2 separate regions of the Homo sapiens genome follow, and region 2 is linked to region 1. Evidence: fine-mapped expression QTL. Tissue or cell type: nasal epithelium. Region 1 holds a variant in brackets; the other region holds the start of a gene. All regions are shown on one strand. Distances are from middle to middle.

Evidence for each region. PIP is the estimated chance that this variant, and not a neighbour inherited with it, causes the effect.
Region 2: it holds the start of FAM111B, and the variant in region 1 is fine-mapped to the expression of FAM111B in nasal epithelium (TOPMed, PIP 0.94).

The regions. Positions count from the first base shown.
Region 1 is chr11:58,992,880-59,001,214 of GRCh38, forward strand. GLYATL1-AS1 (GLYATL1 antisense RNA 1) reads right to left here. Exons shown (of 6, transcript NR_033853.2): 4 at 1,124-1,172. It also overlaps the pseudogene GLYATL1P1 and the pseudogene LOC100287485. Among named protein-coding and RNA genes, the nearest start is that of GLYATL1, 58 kb to the left of the region's middle. The variant T/C (reference allele first, on the strand shown) is at 4,569.
Region 2 is chr11:59,103,781-59,112,115 of GRCh38, forward strand. FAM111B (FAM111 trypsin like peptidase B) reads left to right here and starts at 3,457. Exons shown (of 4, transcript NM_198947.4): 1 at 3,457-3,516; 2 at 4,888-4,932; 3 at 5,760-5,926. The coding sequence starts at 5,846. It overlaps LOC105369315 (a long non-coding RNA gene), which reads right to left and starts at 2,945. Exons shown (of 3, transcript XR_007062680.1): 1 at 1-2,945. RefSeq lists enhancers at 3,346-3,435, 4,576-4,625.

The sequences.
Region 1 (8,335 bases):
GTTTAGGTGAGGGGATAAGAGTGGCTGCATTTTCAAAGTCACTGAAGGTAGAGCAATCAAGAGCAGTCCTCTTTATTATGGAGAATATCCTGAAGTTCCATGACTCCAATAAAAGCAAGCTGGAAGCTGAGCTGAGTCAGGCCACCCAGATGATGAATTTGAGAGACAAAAACATGTGCTGGTCATTTATAATTGCTATTCCTTGTACATTTTTGTTATTCACATAAGTGAGTTTTGGAATGAAAAGAGGATGAATTCATGCTTTGGGATGAATAAAAGTTGTCAATGGTCAAAATACACAGCTTGCAATGGTGGGTCATTAGACAAGAAGAGTCCCTGGGATCTCTAGAATGTGATGGCACCCAGAAATTACAGGGGTGAGGATGAATGTTGTTGTCTTTCTTTTTGTTTTCTATGGTGAAACTCCCAACTTTAAGAATGCCCTGTTGGTTATCTCTTATTCAGGGCTGGTAAATGATAACTGGAGGTGCAGGAAGAATGAGAGGAGCTGGCGTTACATCAAGCACTGTATAGGAGGCCTGCCAGCAGCCTGTATGCTGGGTCCAGATGGGGCTCCGGTATCATGATTAACCTTGGACTCTTCTTGTGATGTAGGAATAGCCTACAGCATGGAAAAATACCAAAGGGCAGACGACATGGCACGGGTGATCATGGGATTCATGAAATATCTGCATCAGAATAATAGTCCATTTTACTTCTCTTTTCTAGAAGTAAATGATGACTCCCACAGATTTGTGGGGCAGTTCTGTTCCTTTGAGGCCACGTGTAAGTACCACCAATGGACCTGATACCCGGAGAATCTAGTTCCATTTTAGACAATGAAGCTACCTAGCTATCTTGTGCAAGCCATCTCTTAATATATCCGTAGAAGAAACCATAGAATAGGTTTCTTCACTTACAAATGTTTATTCGGCATTTATGATATGCCAGGAGCTTTTCTAACATAGAGACTTGATGTTAGAAGACACAGCCATGCTCTTGTGGAACTTACAATCCAGGCTGGAGGCAGGGGAGAGTATAGTCTTTAAATATGCATAAGTGTAGTAGGGAAGGACGGGTTTAGTAGTAAACATGTAACTAGAAAGCCAGGCTCAGTTCTTACCTCTTAGAATCAGAACTCTTTATGAAATGTGGTTGACAGAATCTGCTATCTGGAAGATAAATGAAGGACTTTAATAAAATTGTCATTAGAATATACCTAATCTATATGGATACTTTATTGGAAATAAATAACCCTGATATATATGAATTGAGGCAATGGCTACACTAAAGAATGGAATCAGTCTCTTTGTTTAGTGACTAGCAAGGTATCAAAGTAAAGTCTCAGACAAATGGCTTTCCTAGGCTACCTTTCATCATTGTTACGCAGAAAAGGAAATCTAGAGAATCAAGTGGACTGGCCTTGGGGCCTCTGCTATGGAAATAACATTTGTTGTGCCTCCTTTCTCCTACTCTTTCTCACTTCCTCATCATTATTGAAGCATGGCACAGGGCAAGGTGTTGCATGTGAATCTGGTTATAAGTTCAGCATTTGGTGTTTGCCACTGCTATCTTAAAGGGTCACGGGCATTCCAGGGGAAGTGACCACTAAGGTGAGGACTGGAGAGTGAGTAGGAGTGAGCCAGACAAAAAAAGCGGAAAATCTAGATGATGGAAAGGACACATGCCATGCACTATCATTAGAACTTTCTATTTGAGCGCTTATATTACAATTCTGAATCGCTGATCTTAAAAACAATTACACTTCATGATCAAAAGGTGGCCTCCTTTGGCTCTGGTCTTCCACTCTGCCATTCATATTTGCCATTGGAACTCTGCTAACATGGTGAAACCCCGTCTCTACTAAAAATACAAAAATTAGCTGGGAATGGTGGTACATGCCTGCAATCCCAGCTACTTGGGAGGCTGAGGCAGGAGAATTGCTTGAACTGGGACCTGGGAAGCAGAGGTTGTAGTGAGCCAAGTTCACATCACTGTAGTCCACCCTGGGCTACAGAGTGAGACTCTGTCTCAAAAAAAAAAAAAAAAAAAAAAGAAAGAAAGAAAGAAAGAAAAAAATTGGAAGGCAGAAGGAAATGTGAGTGCAGAAGAGAAGAATGTGATGCGATGATGATGAAAGCAGAGAGATAAAACATGATGTGATTCAGAGACCCAAGCTAAGGAGTGAGGACAGCCTCTATGATCTGGAAAAGGCAAGGGAGCTGATTTACCCACATTGCCTCCAGAAAGAGCTGGCCCTGCCAACATGTCGGTTTTAGCCCCATAAATCCTATTCTGAACTTCCGACTGCCATAAATATAACACATTGTGTTGCTTTAAGTAATCATATTTATCATAATTTGTTATAATGACAAAAGAAAACTAATACATCATAGACATAAGAATCATCTTGAAAATTTAAAGTTAAGCTTTAAATTTGCAACTCAACCTAGCAACCCCTTGTGATAAAAAGCAAGTAAGAAAACCAAATTTTCACTCCTAGCCACAAAATTTAATTTAGCTGAGCATCTCAAAGCTCCTCAGAGGGTACTCAGAATAAAAAGCAATTTTTTTCATCAAAGAAGTCATCTTCATTTAAGAAAGTGTTGCTATAAAGGGTTATCTTGACACTAATGATTGGCATTGGGTGATTTTAATTCTGAGATGTCTGTCACCATAAATGAAATTATGAGACCATAGGATTGAGCTTCTAATTTTCTGTAAGAATACAGAGGAAGAGGAGGGTAAAAATGTTAAGGGTGAGCTTAAATAATACCCAGATCCTGGATAATCAGGTGTCTTTTGTGCTAATGTACATCATCATATTTGTGTTTGAATTAATGATTTTCTACTGATAAGATTTGAAATGGACAGTGGAACTAATCAACAATATTTCTTGGGGATGCATTTCCACTGATGCCAGCCACAAGGTCAAATCTTAAACCCAACATTTTTCAGTGCCTGTAGGATTTTCTCACTATTATCTGCCGCATGAGCATAAAATGGGATTTCTTTCTGAGAAAGATAACTTTCAAGATGATAACCAATTTGCGACATGTTGCCTTGGTTTCTGTGTTTGGGGACAGTATAACCCATTCTCAACTCACTGGACTGTCCCATCACAAGCCAAGAGACAAGCTGTGCCTCTGGACCCAGCACACCAAATCCTAGAAAATCCTGGATGCAGCGTTCAATATATTTAAAGCTCCTCTCATTTTTCCCAAAGGCCCAGTGTTCATTTACAAGACCTGCATGTGAAACACCTAAGAACATGTTTGAAAAGTTTCCTTCCCTATGAAGAAAAAAAAAATTACCTTTATTCAGCCAATATTATCAAACACTGAAATTCCAATAACACCATTCCTTTCCTTAAGGATCCTACAGCCTAGAGGAGGCAATAGCTGTATTACAACTACCTTTTCTATTCCTGCTTCAAAATGTTTCCAAATAATTGGTGGGGGAACACCGTGTTTTATGGTGTATTTAATAGCAGACAGATAATATGATATGTTATAGGACATCTCAAAATGTCCCGTTAAGTATCCTAAGGAAGAAAATGAACACGTCTTTAAAAGAGTGAGGATATAGACCAGAGAAGCCCTCCACGTGGCTGAATTTACTTGAAAGATGCGTGTATGAAATCATGTGCATTTTGAGTTCTACTCCACAAAATATCTAAATATACAAGATAGTAATTCGTTGAACAGATATTCCAATCAAACATATTTTACAGGAAGATGAGAACAATGCTGATCTTACATCTTCATGTGTCCCAAAGCCTGTCATCACATACCCAGAAACGCAGTTTAAGAAGCTGCAATATAGGAAAAAGAATACTAAATTTTTGGTACTAACCTTTGGGATTCTAATCCTGATTATTTTCTTTTGGAAAAGTTATGTAAGACTCAGTTTTCTTGTTTGTAAAATTATAGTAATATCCTCTGTAAATATGGAAATAGTGAAAGAGAGAAGATCTCCAGGAATTTTTGCCCCTCTCCAGGGAGGAAGACTTTTGAGAAGTTTGTCAGTTTCAGAGTCACTTCATGTTTGCCAGTGGGTGGGTAACAGAACGCTAAGTTTTCTATGGGTGATGCTTTGTTTTTGCTCACTTCCATGCCTAACCTGATCCTGGGCTTGCTTCCTGAAAGATCTCAAGTACGCTTTCCTGCACCCCTCTCCTGTGGATAGCCAAACCTAGAATGGCAAGATATAAAGATATCCATGCGTAGGCTTAGAGGAATCACCTTAGGGCAGGTACTTCATGCCAGACTTCCAGAGTTATACTACTAAATATAATTTAATCCCCATTTATCATTGTTCCCTGTGTATATGTTCCCCTTAACAATCTCATGGGAACACTGGTGGGGCAAAGCAGTATTTGAAGACTGTTAACTTTTCTGGCTAAATCAAACATATCTGTGAATGTGTGTTTAAATTCTATTTATTTTTTCAATTAGTAACAAAATTATTAAGCATAAATGGATTACTAGAGGAAAGCAAATCTCTCTTCTTTCTCTGATCTCCTATTACCCAATTACTTTCTCTAGAAGCAACCACTAATACCAATA[T/C]ATTTTGTACAAGTTTCCCATAAATCTATGCAATTTTAGATATGTACATACATTTGTTTATTTTCACAAATGGTAGCATACTATATACATTGTTCTATCCACCTCATGTTTTTTTACATAGCAAACTATTTTGGAAATATTTTCTAATCTGTCATGTAGAGCTGCTTCATTCTTTGTAATGGCTTCATAGTATTCTAATGTTTTAATGTACCATAATGATTTTTTCTATTTCCCCATTACTGGATGTTTAGGTTGTTTCATAAGTTATGATATCACACATTAAATTTATGAAAATCTTACCATCCAGTTTAGAAATATCATTCATTTATTATGCATAGTCTTTGACTCAACAGTTTTAATTCTGGTAATTCATCTTTCAGAAATATTTATACAACTGTTCAATAATCTATTTATGATGATATTCATTTCAGAAAGTGCCGTAAATTATGTGTACATATTGCAAAAATAAATACATAACTCATATGGAGTACTAAAAGCATACATATCAGTGTCAAAATTATTTACACCTAGCAGGGGAACCCAAGAGGACAGATTTTATTTTTCATTTTGTATGCTTATATACTTTCTATAAGCATGTAGCATTTTGTAAGATATAAATAGTTTCAGTAAACATTTTTTGATGCCACCATGATGTCCATTGCCCTCTCCGAAGGACTCTTGTGAGCTCTAAGTGAAATAATATGCATAAAGACCTTGTCTAATGAAGGCTCTGTTCATGCTCAGCACACAGTTCCTAACGTGACGCCCTTTCTTTACCCATGCAATTTTGTAGCCCATCATAATTTAGTCTCAAATTCTACACTTCCAAGTACAGCCTTTGTGGCAACTCAATAATTCTATCAAGGAATTTGGGAAGTAAAACGTAAAATCTCACTTCTTATCATCACCCATTTTAAATAACCCCATATTGTCATTACTTGCAGTCTTGTGTTTCTTTGGTAATTCCGGTATAAAGAGCATGGTTTTCATGTAATCTACCTGCACTGATTTTGAAGTTGCAACCTTTCTTATTGCTTCATCCAAGCCCTCCTGTCAACCTGGAGAGAGGAGAAAGACAGGTACTGCTTTATACCTTCCATATCAGCTAGGAATAAACCACGCATCTTTTCTTTTAACTCAGACTAGTTAGATTGGATCTGGAAAGTTTGCTCCCAGTTGATAACCTCGGAGCGTGACCTCCTCTAAGTTGTCAGGAGCTTTGGTGAAGATGTGGTAAGAGTTGGTGTAATGATCCCAGTCATTTTTTATCTCCAGATACAACAAATATCATACATAGCCCTACAATTACAAAATACTCTTGCATAGGCCTAGAATACTAGAGATTAACTTGTTTGAAACATTCTGTTTTTCTAAGATAGGTGTAGAAAATGGCCTTGCAGTCGCTCCAAGAATAACTCACTATTTATACACTGAAGATAGTGTCTTTCTTTTAGGGCACTAAAGTGAGCTGCCCTTGAGAGGGTGAGTAAATAGCTCCATTGTCTCGAATGGGAAGTGTAACCAAAATGGTGTATGTTAAGGATTTAAAAGAGAAGGTGCCTAAGGTATGGAAAAAATATAAGAAACAGGTTTGGCAAGGCTCCGGGTTTTTGGCAAGGTGACACCTGAGCTAATCCTAACCCAGGAAGGACTCTGAGGCTGGCTCAGTGATTGGCTCTTGGAGTACATGTGAATAGATAAACTTTTGGAAAGAACTAACATTCCAGAGCCAGATAGTACCTAGAATAGACAGCTTGGTCTGGCTCTACATGTCTGCCTACCCTCTGCTGATGACACTTCCACTTGAGAGTCCTCGCAGGTGAAAACACTTCTTAATCACTTTCAGCCATAGAAGTCTAGGTTGGGATGTAGTCCTATGATCAGAATTTTGATGGAATAGACTGAGTGCTTGGAATCCTAATTTTATTTACACATCCAGGGTTATTGATCACTGGATCTAAGTTCAAGCCTTATCTCACTGCCCTACCCTCTCTCCCAAACAGCCCTTCCAAAACCTGCATACGTCAACAGTGTCAACATTCTTCTCACCACTCCTCAGTTTCAGTTCCCTCATTGCCACACAGAGAATGTCTGGAGAGTGACTGCCCTGGTATTCAGTAACTATTGCTCCTACCTGGTTCTGAGGCTGAGTAATGATGATCTGGTAATCTGTCCAGGCATCTACCATCACCTCCATTTTGAATGGGTTTTTATGTTTTATGTTGAAAATGGTGCTGTATGCCTATAATGCAACAGAACAAAACAGTAGGGGATGAAGTTTTTCTCCAATGTAAAGTCTTATATGAGGCATGGGAAATAAGGACAAGAAGCCTAGGAGGACTTAGGATGGGGCCAGTGCTTCCAAGGTGGTTCATTGGGCTACTCATTGAGAGTTATGTTGCAAAAGGGACCAATAAGCATCCACAAAAATCCATGTTAACACCCGAATCATTAGGAACTGGCTTCCCTTATATTCATTCATTTTTTAAAAATTCATGCCATTTCACATTGTAATTGTGAAATGTGTGAAAAGTTCACATTGTAAATGTGTAGCAGATCTTTAATGGCTTGGTCAACACAAAATATTGGCTACAATCAATTACAGGTGGTAATATATCCTGAAAGATTAAAATTAGAAAAAAAAGGTCCAGAACCATCAGGGCCATTTGGGGCTAAAACCAGGATGGCCACCTCCTCCTCAGCCGAGTGAGTGCTGGAGGAGGGAGCCTGAAACTAGGCTCACTGTGACTCATTTGTGGCACCCATTATTGCCCAACCTGCAGTTCACTATGGTGAAGGAGCAATTCAGACTCACCCTGCAGCATCCCGTCTGGGTCAAACAGTGGCTGCTCCCTAAGGAATAGTTGGGGGCGCTACATAAAGTAGTTTAAAAACTATTGTAAAAAGGACATGTTTCACCAATGTTCTTTCCTTAGATTCTCCAGTGTTTGTAATTCATAAAAATTCCAGCCGATGGGGCATGCTGACCAACTTAAGAGCTGTCAATGCAGTAATTCAACCCCTGGGGGGCTCTCTCAACTGGGTTGCCCTCTCTGGCCATAATCCCCAAAGATTTGCCTTTAATTATAATTCATCTGAAGGATTGCTTTTTTACCGCTCCTCTGGCAAAACAGGATTTTGAAAAATTTGCTTTTACTATACCAGCCATAAATAATAAAGAACCAGCCACCAGGTTTCAGTGGAAAGTGTTGCCTCAGGGAAGGCTTAATAGTCCAACTATTTGTCAGACTTTTGTAGCTCAAGCTCTTCAACCAGTTAGAGACAAATTTTCAGACTATTATATCATTCATTATGTTGATGATATTTTGTGTGCTGCAAAAACCAGAGACAAATTAATTGGCTGTTACACATTTCTGCAAACAGAGGTTTAAAACACAGGGCTGACAATAGCATCTGATAAGATTGAGACCTCTACTCCTTTTCATTATTTCAGAGTGCAGGTAGAGGATAGGAAAATTAAACCACAAAAAATAGAAATAAGAAAAGACACATTAAAAACATTAAATGACTTTCAAAAATTGCTAGGAGATATTAATTGGATTTGGCCAACTCTAGGCATCCCTACTTATGCCATGTCAAATTTGTTCTCTGTCTTGAGAGGGGATCCAGAATTGAATAGTAAAAGAACATTAACTCCAGAGACAACTAAAGAAATTGGATTAGTTGAAGAAAAAATTCAGTGAGCACAAGTAAATAGAATACATCCCTTGGCCCAACTCCAGCTTGATTTTTGCTACTGTGCATTC
Region 2 (8,335 bases), 110 kb after region 1:
CCATCTAGTCCAAATATAAATCTTTCTCTGTGATATACTCTCAAGGTAGAGGCAGTGGTGCCTTCCTCTGTATTCCGAGAACATGTCATCTGCACCTCTACATACAGACATCATCCTACTGGTAGTGTTCCAGAGCATCTTTTAGGGGTTCATGAAGGAATCACTCTTCGTAAACACTGGCCTTATTCCCTAACTTCACCAGACCTGACCTTAGTGCATGATCCATTCCCACCTCTCCCAACCACATGAGAGCCTTTTCCTCTTTATGGGTTTACAAAACACAAACTGACCCAACCACCAGTTACTGGCCAAAAGCATTCTTGTCACATTTATAATAAAATCCAGCCAACAGGATACTTTGTGCCAAGGGAATGTTCCTTTTCAGGGCAAACACTCTGTCCCCAGGGATGTTAGACAACTTCCATAGCCCCAGATAAGCATTAGCTAGAAGTGAGTTTTCTTTGGTGGCCCAACAGATTCCCTGAGCATCCCTACTCTGTCACTGATTCCAGTTGCAGTGGGATTGCATCAAAGCTCTCAGAGCACAGCTGCAAAGGGTAAAGCAAAGCTAGAGCTCTACTCTGGACCTATCACTCTAGACAGTTTCTCTGTGAGGGGCAGTTTTATACGTAAGGAAGAAATGGAAGATTACTCCCAAAATGGCCTCAGGGTACTTATCCCAATTGTGTGGTTCAGTTGCTACTCCAGTGATGAGCAAATAAACAGGAAATAGAAGCACAACTATTCCTAAGCTCAAGAAGCAGGGAAGCTCAGGAATTGGTGTGCAGCAGTGCTGCTTGGAGCGCCATTACAAAGGGACAAGCACGGTCCACTGGGAGGTAAAATTCAGGGAATCTAAGACACAGGGGGTATGGGAAACAAGGCAGGCTTTTGTATTTATCATTTGCCGTGATATCTCTCTGTGAACTTTCTTTTAATTTTCCCTGTACTTTAATTATATTTCTTAGGCCTGACGTGGTGGCTTACATCTGTAATCCCAGTACTTTGGGAGGCTGAGGCAGGCAGAGCACCTGAGGCCAGGAGTTCGACCCCAGCCTGGCCAACATGATGAAACCCCATCTCCACTAGAAAAACAAAAGTTAGCTGGGCATGGTGGCAGGCTCCTGTAATCCCAGCTGCTCAGGAGGCTGAGGTATGAGAATCGCTTGAACACAGGAGGTGGAGGTTGCAGTGAACCGACATCATGCCACTGCACTCCAGCCTGAGCAATAGAGCAAGACTCTGTGTCAAAAAAAAAAAAAATTCTCAGTTAATGGCCAACATTGTTACCATCATAAGTCCCAGCTTCCCTGTCTTCCTGTCATCATGTGTTGAATGTCCACTTCCCTCCTTATTTTTCAGTTGGAGTGGATTAGCATCTCCAATTCGACATGTCAAAAGTAGAATTTTACACACACACACACACACACACCCCACTCCTGACACACACAGCATCTCTGTCCTCAGACTTCCCCATCCTTCTAGTTGCTCAAGTCAAAAGCCCAGGAATCGTCATTGAGCCCTCTGTTTCTCTTATTTATGGAACATCCATAAGCAAATTCCAAGGGCTGGCCCTTCAAAATAAATGTGGAATCCAGCCATTTCTAACACTTCCACCATTACCATCTGAGGTCGGGCTCCAACATCTTTGCAATCCTGGGACAGACTCTTAGCTGCCTTCTCCCTTCCACATCTCTTCTTGTCCTCCCAGAGTCTTTACCCCGCACAAACGCTGCTAGGGTGATTTTTTAAAATATGTCAGGGTATATTACCCCCCTGCTTCAAATCCTCCATTTAAAATAAATTTCACATTTATAGCAAAATCCAGACTTCTTCATATGGCCCACCAGGGGCTTTATGCTAATGGAATGTGCAGATGCTCCTCCCTGAGGAGCACCTTTTACCAGGGCAAATTCTCTATCTCCAATGATGTCAGGCAATTTCGACAACACCATTCTCTACCATCTCTTGCTTTTCATAGATTTGTTTCCTCCAGATTCTACAAAAAAAGAAGATCAAGTCTCCTTGTGCAATGATTTACTCTCTGATGTATATTGGTGCCAGGCACGTGTACTGCTTTCAGATGATTCAAGAATAACAGCGATTTAAGAAAGCTGTCGTTAAGTTTTCTCTTCTCTTTGTCTGTATGACATTATTTTTACAATTATACTTCCAAAGTTTGCTCTTTCCGAACACCTCAAGACCCGTGTAATTTAAGCAGTGATTTTAGGGGTCTCTGTATATTTTATATTAATTTCAGAAACATGCTCATGATTATTCCACCAAAACTATCAACTGTTACATAAACATCTGTCCTTCTATGAGTTACAAAATAATTGTCTCCATCCCCACTTAACCATCTTCTCTCCTTCTTTGAGCAACTTCTGAAAAATAACACCCAATACTGATGGCATCTCATTCTATTCAGCTTCTCAGACAGTAAGACGTTCTTTTCTTAAACAGTAAGATGTTTTCTCAAGCCCCATGCAAAGCACTTCTTTGATATCAGTTTGGGGAGGTCGTACTCTGGAGCCTTCATCCAAAGGGTAAAGTACAGCACTCAGTAATGCGCGTCCTGGGAACGAGGCCTAAGCAGTGCTGGCCACTGCCTCCTCCAGGCTGGCATTGTCTGTGTTCGCCAGCCCCGCCGCGAAGTTAGCTCATTTGTGATCAGGCCAAGTCCCTTTAGATTTCACGCAGACGCGGGTGCAGCCTGCTCTGGGACTTGAAGTCCGCTGGAGCCTGGGCCTCTGCATTATCCGGGTGGAGCTCTCTCTGCTGCTGCCGCCAAAGGATCCCGCCTGGATGCTCATCCCGCCACCGTCGCCCACCCCGCCGCTGCAGAAAGGCAGCAACTGCCACACACCTAAGCAACTTGGCGGGCTATTCGCCCTGCAGCTGCCGCCAGCGCGCGGCTCCCGCCAGCGCGCTGGCAATCAAAAGTCGGAGAAAGCGCGAAACCTCCAGGCACCTCCCACTCCGCCCAGCTACCGCGCAGCTCCTCCCTAGCCTCCACTGGGAGACAGGGGACGCCCATGAGCGGGAAAGAGCAGGGCGGTGATTGCTTAGTTTATCCTGGGACACGGGAACTGGCCGTGGACTGAGTGGTGCCGGGGAGGGGATCACTGAGACCGGGAAGGGTCATCCAGACAAATAGGGAGGGTGGGCGGGTTGGCGCGCAGTACCCTCGGCCCGGCCTTCAGACCCACCTGCGCGCGCTGCGCGCTCATCCGGTCCTTCCCTTCAATCACTGTCTGGAGTGATGATAATTGGCTTCCACAGTGGATGAGAGATGAGTCATTTACATCCAATGAGAGAAAAACAGCCTCCAGAGACTCTTCGTCCATTGGCCAGCGAGAGTGTCAGTTCCCAGGCTCCTGCCGCGCACGGGCGAGCCCTTCTAGGCGGGAAAAGTTCAGCTGAGAGATATAAAAGAGCAGTCTTTCCAGCACCTGCAAATCCAGAGCGGCGGGCACTGACGGGCACTTGCACCGTGTGGACAGACTCTCCGGTTCTGTGAGTGGTTTTTCTTTTCCCGGGTCGGACCTGGAGTTCTTAGGGGGATGGCTGACAAGGGCAGTAGGCAGAAGGACCTCAGCCCAAAGTCAAGGGGGTTTTGGATGGGGAGCTGGGCAGCCGCCCGTTGTAATTCCCTTCCCCCTGTCTCAGCTTCAAAGGCCAAGAGTTGTACTCCTGAAGAGATACTTAGAGATCATCTGGGTGTTCCTGAATCTCGAGAGGGTCGTTTGACCCTGGTGGGTCCTTTCCCTGCCCGGTGCCGTTCGCGCCCATAGAAGGAGACCAGGTTCGGTTAAGCAGAGCAGAAACTATTCACTGATCAAGGAATGGAGTAGGAGAGCTCCTGCTCAAAGTGCCTGGAGTGTAGTGTGAGGGTGCTTCTTAAGGTCTTTTAGGGCAGGTAGTTGGAAAGCAAGGATTTCTGGAAAGAGACGGGGCTTTCCAGAAACAGCTGAGTGTGGCAGTCTCCTATTTTCTGTTGCCACCCAACACTACATGTGCCTAGCAAGCTGCGTTTCTCCCCGAGGCACAGATTGAGGTATGGTAATCAGCAAGGATTCAGGTTAGGGTAGCGCTTCTAAGTTCGTTTCCCATCTTGTAGCACGGTGGTTACTGACATCCAGTCTCTGTTTCTGTAAGCAAGCACAGCTTCAAGCACAGGTTACCTTCATAGGTTCTGGGGCTTTAGGAAAGCATTGAGGTCATCCTGCGGTGACAGAGGCAGCTGTTCAAAGAACTTGGTGCGCCTTTGAGGCGGGGGTTGTGGAGTGAGGCAGGTAAAAATGCAGATTCCATAGCCACACCCCGACATACTGAATCAGAGTCTGTGAGGGTGGGATCTGGAATCCTTTTTAAAAAGCTTAGAGGAACCAATTCACACGAACAATAAAAGTTTCATCTGAGCCAAAGTCCTTAATCTAGAAATGAGGAAATGGGGATCCCTAAAAGGGTTACAGGGAGAGGGTTGGTGGAAAGTTAGACTATGACAGTTTTAGGGTGGTTCTTTCCTGGCCTTGGAAAGTTTTCTCAGCTGCTGCTCTGATCAGTACACAGCTGAATGCTTTAGGGGAACCCTCTTCATATATCCAGAGTTCCCTCTCTGTGCAGGTCTCCCACCATGTCTTTGGCCTGTGACCTCTTGTCACCTTAGTCTCTCAGCTTTGTCTCCTTAAATCTGGAATTCCTACTGGTTTTGTCTTGCTGCCCTTCCTTGCCACACTGGCCTGGAATTCCTCAAGGTAGTCTGCTAAAGTGGATTATAGGATACATTTCAATTGTCACTGTCCTTAATTGCATAATGTCCAGTTCCTTGCAAACCATTGTTTCATATGTTTTGCTCTTTTTTGTTTTGTTTTGTTTTCATACTAGGGGGAAATCCAGTCCCTGTTACTCCATTTTGGCCAGAAATTCAAGGTAATGACTTTTAATGTTTCTGACTGCTAGTTCTATCTTCTCTCTCACTTCTGGACCTGTCTCTATTCACTGATATTTCTAGTCATTATGGGTCATATTTATCCACTTTTTAAGTGCCTGCTGATTTTTTTATTAGATATCAAGCTTTGTTAATTTCACAACTTTGGGTGCCAGAAATTTTTACATTCCTATCAATATTCTTGAGCTTTGTTCTAGTATGTTCATATTTTACATGGAAACCATTTTATACTTTCGAAGCTTGCTTTTATTTATTAGGTGGGAGCAGAACTAGGGCTAATTTTGTCCTACTGCGGAAGAAATACCTTGCAGAGTAGTCTCCCTGATACTTCATGAATTATGAAGTTTTCTAGTCGGATTTTTGGGAATTGAAATTATACACAGTCCTGTATGAGCCTCAGAAATTGTTACATCTGCTTCTTTTGGGTACTTCTTTTCCTGTTCCTTTTCAACAGTTTCGTTCCACTCATGCATTGACCAAGCTGAAATCTCAAGGGATACCCACTGCAGATCTCTCATACTGTGTGCTCCTGTGGCTGTCTTCTCCCTAGTACTCTGTCATACAAGCTCCAGTCATCTTGGCCTCCCAAAACTCCTTGCTTGTCTTCTCAAATCAGGGAAACTACTAGACTCTGCCTGTTTCTCCTTCCTAAGATATGCCTTGGAAACTCCATACAGTAAGCTAAATAGCCATAGGGCTTACCTCATATGATTTTCTTCTCAGATATCAGAGATGAGGTCCCACACCACCTGATCTCCAGTGTTTGAAAGTGGTTATTTCATAGATCTTGTTTTTTTGGTTTTTTTAGACATTTCAGGTGGCAGAATAAATTCAATCCTTGTTTCTCCATCTTATCGAGTAGTAGAAGTTAGTTACATTCTCTTTGAACTCATCATGAATTCCATGAAGACTGAAGAAAACAAGTCATTTAGCGCTATGGAAGATGACCAGAGGACTAGACCTGAAGTTTCAAAGGTATATCTACTTTTTTACAACTCCTCAGAGGAGTGATAGTCTAACTATAGTGCCATATGAGGATCTTGGAGATAAGTTCTTAAACAATGGTCGTTATAAGCCCTTCTCTTAGGTAGTTTAAAATATATTTGGGGAGCTCATACACATAAGTGCTTGTGGAAAGCAAAATGATAGAGTTAACAATGCTAAACGTATGTTAAGACAACAAGATGACTAACAAACAATATAGACACTTAAAGTCTTGGAAAGTGTAGACAGGCAAAAATAATTAGCTAATGTTTTCTGAGGAAACACTGTGTGCCTAGAATTGTGTCCCATCATATGTATTATCTCATTTAACACTTAATAGAACTATGCAGTAGGTATTATTATCATACTTATTTTATAAAAGAAGAAACTGAAGCTCAACTTGCTTATAGTTGCAGAAGTAATGGACTTCAGAGCAAGGATTTAAACCTAGTCCATCAGACTGCAGAGACTGGTTTTTGACCCACACTATTTTGCTCAAAATATGCAAAATGATAATACAAAATTGAGACATAAACAAGTGATTTTAGAGTACAGAGAGAAGAATGCTTAATTCAGACTTAGGAAACTACAGCAGCGTCATATGAGAAATGATTTATTAATGAATAATAAATCTAAAATTGTCAAACTCATAGGTGTCGAAGTGGTTGTTGGGCTGGGAATAGAGAAAAATGGAGGTATTAGTCAAGGGGTACAAAGTTTCCTTATACAAGGTGAATAAGTTCTAGGGATCTGTACAGCATGGGTGCCTATAGTTAATAACACTGTTGTATACTCAAGTTCTTGCTAAAATGATAGATCTTATGTTAAGTGTTCTAATTACAAAAATAATAAGAGGGCAGGAAGAGACTTTGGGAGGTGATAGATAGGTTGATGGCATAGATTGTGGTGATAATGTATCTCCATACTCATCAAGTTGCATACATTAATTATGTACATTAATTATGCATTTTGTATGTCTAAAACTAAGTTATTTTTTAAAAAGAATGAATAACATTTCACTAGTGTATCAAGGATGAAGGAATGGCCTAAGTAAAGTCGTGTACACAGGAAAACATATTTGGGGAACAGGATAGCTGCATTTGATGCTTTATAAGGAGAATTCAAGAATATGGTAGGCAAATACTGTTTTCTATACTGGTAAGGTAGTATGGTGCCAAGATCACAGTAGGCTTTATATCAATAAGAGCTTTCCACATTTCCAGTAAAAATATTTTCTAATTGTGAAACAATAAAATGGATTCGCTGGTTCACATGAGTGGACATTCCAGAATTCAGCTGAGCTCTTAATTCAGTGGTATACAGTTTCTTTAAGGACTTGTTTGTGTGTTCAGTCTCTGTGTTCTGCTTTTCATGTTATCCCCTGGCTGGCTTTCTGCATAGTGACAAATAGAGCTGCAGTAATATCAGATGCTTTACTCTCCCTATAATGAGTCTATCCTGGTTTCCTGAGGAAACTTCTCTTTGCCATCTAATTGTCCCAACTTAAGTAGCTCACCCATTTCAACACAAAACCTTGTGACTGAGAGGGCACATATAGATATTCTTAAGCTGTCATGAATTCATTTCCATACGTGTATGGCTCCTAAAAAGTGGGAGAGAGGTAGAATAGCTTTCTGGAAAATAGCTGCAGTATCTTTTTTTTCTTTGAATTCCATGTGTAGGTTTTTGGATTTCCTTCTGTAAATAAAGGAGATGTGTTTACAGACTTTATCTTTGTATTGCTTAGGAGGAGTTATTCAATTCACTTAAGACTTTGTTAAGTTAAATATTAATGTTAAAATGATTAGGGCTATTTCGTTCAAGACAATTGCCACTAATCACATGTGATTATGTAAATTTAAATTTAAATTCAACTTAACTAAAATCAAATAATGAAAAAGGTCAATAGTACAAATTCTCAGTTATATCACGTGTCAAGTACTTAAGAACCACATGTGGCTGTGGAATTAGACAGTGCAGATGTAGAACATTTCCGTCACTGCAGACATTCTATTGGGCAGTACTAGTCTAGGGCATCCAATTATAGAACAGAACTAGAGTATAAAACTGCCAAACTGTTCGTCTAGAAAATAGAATGAGAGGGAAAAATCAAAGTAAAGGAGGCAACAAAGCAAGGGAATATAAATTCAGAAAAAGTGGCAAAAGTAGAAGATACAAAAAAAGATGATAGAAATGAACACAAAAACCCCCACACCCAATTAATTGTCTTACAGATTATTTGAAAGGCTTTAACTTTTATTGTTTCCTTTAAATTTATGTATTTCATATACAGTAAAATTCAGTCTTTTTGGTATACAGTTGAATGGCTTATAACAAATGCCTGCAGTAATGTAACCATGACCAAAATCCAGAAGCAAAGCAGTTCCATCACCCTAAATA